Linked DNA regions of Homo sapiens: region 1 is linked to region 2. A link means that fine-mapping ties the variant in region 2 to the expression of a gene that starts in the linked region. Tissue or cell type: pancreatic islets. Region 2 holds a variant in brackets; the other region holds the start of a gene. All regions are shown on one strand. Distances are between the middles of the regions.

What was found. PIP is the estimated chance that this variant, and not a neighbour inherited with it, causes the effect.
Region 1: LINGO4 starts here. The variant in region 2 is fine-mapped to the expression of LINGO4 in pancreatic islets (PISA, PIP 0.95).

Annotation. Positions count from the first base shown.
Region 1 is chr1:151,803,974-151,806,653 of GRCh38, forward strand. It overlaps LINGO4 (leucine rich repeat and Ig domain containing 4), which reads right to left and starts at 1,446. Exons shown (of 2, transcript NM_001004432.4): 1 at 1,257-1,446. RORC (RAR related orphan receptor C) reads right to left here. Exons shown (of 11, transcript NM_005060.4): 11 at 2,098-2,680.
Region 2 is chr1:151,456,794-151,459,473 of GRCh38, forward strand. It overlaps POGZ (pogo transposable element derived with ZNF domain), which reads right to left. Exons shown (of 19, transcript NM_015100.4): 1 at 2,359-2,680. Among named protein-coding and RNA genes, the nearest start is that of POGZ, 1.4 kb to the right of the region's middle. RefSeq lists silencers at 1,802-1,851, 2,042-2,091. The variant CAAAA/C (reference allele first, on the strand shown) is at 1,134.

The DNA.
Region 1 (2,680 bases), 350 kb after region 2:
AAGGGATGGCTACAGAGATAGGAGCAAAAGCCCATGGATGCTCTCTGGGATACAGCGCGTCTGAGTCTCTGCTGAGCGGCAATCCTGATCACCTTTGGGCTTGTGGGCTTCAGGCTCTCTGGGCTCTACAGGGTCAGCTTTCTACTACATGCCCTGTTTTTTCTCATGTGGAACTTAGGAGAGGCAGTTTAAGAGATGGTCATTTCTTCCCCTTTCCTTCCCACTCTCCACCTCCTAGAAGGATCATTCTAGTGGCTATCCTACAGCCACTTGAGAGGATTGTCCTAGTTGGGAAACTAAAGAAAGAGGCCAAAAGAGCAGAGGGATGCAGAAAACTGGTGTGAGGCTTGGGGATGAAAAAGAATAACGTGGGGCAAAGACTGCAGAGCAGACTCTTCTCGCCCCAAACTGACCTAACAGGTCTCTGTGGCATGCCCAGAGCTCTCCCGGGAAAGATGGCCCAGCCTCCCTTGTTCTCCCTAGGCTTGTTCTGGGAAGTCCACCTGACAGCTAGCTCTTCATCACTACTGCTGCAGTTCCTGCCCATCCTCGCTCTGCATTCAGCAAAAGTGCAGTGAAGCATGTAACCCAGCTTTCTTCCTTCCTGCTCCTGTGAGTTTCCCCTGAGTCCGCTGGGCCAGGGGCTGAGGGAGCTGGAGCAACCTATTTTATTTCTAAGGTGGCTAATTTAATCACAAATTTCCCTTGCCAACCTCCATGGCTGCAGGACCGGCTTCCGGCCACTTTGCAGGAAGCGAGATGTCAGAACCACTTTTTTGTCCCTTCAGTGGGGTGGGGACATCACCAAGACATGACCCTTGAAGGCATCACCCCTCAAGGGTAGGGAGCCTTTTTCTTGTCTTTATGTGGCAGTCCAGAGACACTTTTGAACCTGGGTATCCTGTATCCTCTTTAAAGCACACCTGACTGACAAATGGGAACTGTGTGGGGAGAGGGTTCCTGGGGGAAAGATTTCTGGAAGATCCACACCGATTGTGGAGAAAAACCCTTCCAGAGGAAGGGGAAGCACTGGGGAGATGGAAGGGAGGTCTCCTTGGAGCCCTTCCACCCAGGGGTACTTGGGATATTTGAGTTTCCCCCTCAAAGTCCCATGGGGCCAGGATTAATTGTTAGCAGTGTGGGGGCCCAAACCCTCTTGCCTTGAGGGGCCTGTCTGGCCCCTAGTCTGGCCTGTCTCGGAGAATGTTATGGAAAAGGGCGGCTGCATCTTTGGGACAGAGAGTGGGGGCACTTACCGGAGAAGCTGGAAGGTGGCATCAAGTTTGGCACTGCATCTGTCCAGCGCTGGGGGCCCTGTCCCATTCGAGCTGCACCTCAGGCCCCTGCACCTTCCCTGTGTGCCTCAACCCCCGCTGCCTGGCTGCCCGGCTGCTGCCTGCCGCTGCTGCTGCTGCTGTTGCTGCTGCGGCCGCTGCTGCCAAGACTGAGGTGGAGAAAAGAGCCAGAAAGCATTTCTCCTTTTTTTTTTTCCTCTCTCTCTCTCTCTCTTTTTAAACCAGGCAAGAATGAGTCTGCAGCAACCCTGTTGGTGCAAAATAAATAAATAAAGCAACCAGGGAGGGCTGCAGCAAGCACCACTACAGGCTGGCAAGTGACAGGGGAGGGAGCCAGGAGGGAGGCTCTGGTGCCAGGGAGGGGTCATGCAATAGCAAGAACAGCAGGTTCTAGAGGATCTCTCTGACATCCTGATTCCCCCACTGGGGAGCTTGGGCCAGCCACCTTCCAGAGGACTGTCTTTTGGTCTCCCAGATGTGGAGCAATTCTGTGCAACCTCTAAATCTAAACGTTCCCCGTGGGTATCATTTATGGGAAGTTCTCAGTCTAGAGCATCTCCCGTGGGGCTCAGTTTGAGGCTCCTACAGTGGGGGTTCCTGAAGATTCGTTCACAGTCCTCACTGAGGGACTGCTCCACCTGGGGAGAAACTGCAGGGGTCGGGTGAGGGTGGGTTGGATCTGTATAATGCTGATGGATTGCTGAGCTGGAAACCTGAGTCTTGACCCAGGAATGAGACTGGAGAGCAGGCATGCAGGTAATCTAATTTAAGAATCTCCCCCACCCTCTGACACACACACTTCTTGCCTTTAAAATCATTTTATAAAGAATGGCACAAGTTGGGGTTTATGTTTACTCAGATGAACCCGTCCCCTTAGAGGACACAATCCCACCCCCAACCCCCCCAACTCCACGACTGCCCATCATTGCTGTTAATCCCTCAGGGGAGGGTTCACAGCTGTTTATGAAGCCAAGAGAGGTTCTGGGCAAGATCACAGCTGGGGAAACAGGCCCAGGCCCTGCTCCCTGGTGTCCTCCATGCTGGAGTCAGCGGTGCCCAATGACGGGGTGATGTGATCACATCTGCTTCCTTCTCCACAACAAGAGCAGGGCTGGCGGGCAGGCCAGGAAAGTCCTCCAGGATCTGATCTTGCCTTCCGACTGACCAGTGCGAGCGACTTCTGCTTCTCTTGGGTCTTCTAGTGGTAGAAGACAGCTGGAGCTGGGGTGGTATTTGGATCACCCCAGACCCAAGATCAGTGGACTGGAGCACCATGGAAATGTTTGGGAGGGTCCCTCAGGATTGGGACTTTCCCCTGAGGCCTCTAGGCTCCTCCAAGCTGTGGCCTCAAGGATAAGAGAGATTGTGTCAGGTTCATGTGTCTC
Region 2 (2,680 bases):
AATACAACCAGGGAGGAAGAGATTGCAGTGAGCCGAGATAGTGCCACTGCACTCCACCCTGGGCGACAGAGCAAAACTCCGCCTCAAAAAAATAAAAATAGAATAATAAATTTTACTGCTTCAAGGGCATTCTCAAGTAGTTTGGTGCCCCTGACTTGCTTTGTGCTAAGGTACCGCCAGTAGTTTTACCCAGCCTTGCTTTTGAACCATCAGTGTATCAGTGAAAACAATAAATAGCATCTTACTATTATTTTGAAAATAGTTATGACCTTGAGGCTACCCTGAAAGGGTAAGAGGAGATCCCCATGGGTCATCTGTCCACACTTTGAGAACTGCTTTCCTACATTATACCACTAGTTCAAGATGGGAGTGGAAACTCTAACTAAATCAGGTTCGTCCCAAGAGTCCATTCTGTTACCTCCTTTAGTTTGAGATACACCACCAACACAGCTCTGGAAAAGGGAAGGAAATCAACGGCACAAGGTGTCACTTGTTTCAACATCTTGAACACTTTTATGTTAGACCAGTAATTCTCAATGTAGTGGTTACATTAATCAGTCTCAGCCCCAGGACTGCTCATTTGAAAATGTAAAGATGACAACCCCCCTCTGCTCCATTCAAATAAATTTGGGGGATGAGGCCCCCCAAATTGTACGTTTAACCACCTTCAAGTTACTTTTTATGCACCCCGAAGTTGAGAACGATTGTGCTAACAGTTCGAATTCAGAGTTCAAGCTCTCAGACCCTGAGCAATAGTGTCTCAAAATTAATCGTTTGCCAACGAGCAGCCCTCCCTGCCCCCTCCGTTTCCCTTTCCTCTAGTTGGGTAAATGCCTACAGAAGTAAAACCCGGCCGGGCGCGGTGGCTGACGCCTGTAATCCCAGCACTTTGGGAGGCCAAGGCGGGCGGATCACCTGAGGTCAGGCGTTCAAGACCAGCCTGGCCAACATGGTGAAACCTCGTCCCTACTAAAAATACAAAAATTAGCCGGGCGTGGTAGCACATGCCTGTAATCCCAGCTACTAGGAAGGCTGAGGCAGGAGAATCACTGGAACCCGGCAGGCGGAGGTTGCAGTGAGCAGAGATCGTGCCACTGCACACCAGCCTGGGCGACAAGAGTGAAACTTCGTCT[CAAAA/C]AAAAAAAAAAAAGTAAAACCCCATTTCTGTGGAGTTTTGAGCGGCGGTAAGAGGTGTCTACGGGCTTGGAAGGACGGGCTACACCGCTTGCATCAAGACGGCGGCTGCTGTGAGATAGTCCAACTGCATCTTAGTTTCCATTTCGAAAATGAGACTGGCCACTAAATGACTCTAAGGACTCATCAGCACTACCTTTTTCTGAACTAAGAATGTCTAAGACAAGTGCTACTAGCAGTTTGAGAGAATCCCACATCTGGAGAGGAAGGAAATAAGAACAACACGCAGAAAGACGGAAAACAAATAGATCAATGACAGTACTCCTTTGCAAAAGGTGCCAAGAATCTAAATAAAATAGTCCCCGGGATAAACATGGCGCCCACCGCGGCAGGACATAATCACCAGAAAATAAAGATTCCCCGCCTCATTCCATTTTATAAATCACGGCGCCATCCCAAAAGAAATTTGGGGACCGAGGGAGGAGACTTCGTAAACTAGCTGCAGTGCACTAAGGCTTAGGATGTACTATTAGACCAAGCAGAGATTACATAACACAAGGGATCGGCTCAGCAATCACTCATTTTCCTCCTCCCGCTCAAAACGAGCGCCCCACTCCTTCTCGGAGCGGGAATGGGGCGGGGAGGGCCGCGCACCCCCACCCCCAGGGGCCGCTCCGCCGCCGCCCGCCCCTCCGCCGCACGGCCTCGCCCCCTCGCCGGCCCCTCCCGCCGCGCCCCGCCGTCTCGCCACCGCCCGCGCCCCCGCCCCCGCCCCTTCCCCAGCGGGCCACCGCCCGCGCCCGCGCCGCCCACTCCTCCGAGACGCCTCGCGCCGAGCGTGCGTGTGGACGTCGGGCTGTGTGCGGGGCCGTGGGGCGCGAGTGCGCGCGCGCGCGCCGCGGCGGGCGCCGGGGGGCGGGGGCGGCCGGCCAGCCGGCAGGCAGGGACCTCCGCCGCCGGCCCTTCGCGCGGCTCCCGCGGCCCGGGGCGCACGCACACACACTCGCGCTCGCGCGCCGCACCCCGCGGCCGCCCCTGCCGCGGGCCGCGCCGCCACTCGCGGTGGGCGGGGGCGCGCACCGCCGGCCCCCCGCCCCCACCCCCGCGCGTACCGGCCCCATCCCCCTCTCATTGTCTCGCCTCTGAACGCCTCGCCGAGCGAAAAGATAACGGAACCCCCGGGAGCAGGGGGTGGGGAGAGAGAAGGCTCGCTCGCTCACTCACCTCCTGTGGTCGTCGCCGCCGGTAGTCTGACCCGAGGAAGGCGCCGTCGCCTTAAAGGGACCTTACACCCGGCGCCAGAAGGGGGTGGGAGCAGGGGGAGGGGACGGGGGCTTGGGGGGAGACGAAGAAGAGGTAACCGTTGAAAGCTCGTCTCCCCAAGGGTGAAAGGAAGCCTCCCTCGGGTTCGAGTGATTCGGGGTGGATTTTTTTCCCGAGGGGGGCGGGGGGGCCCCGAGGGAGGGGGGTGGGGGGGCCAAGGAATGCGGCTCCGTGTACGGGAGCTGGCGCGGGGGAGAGAGACGCCGACTCCCCCCACCGACCC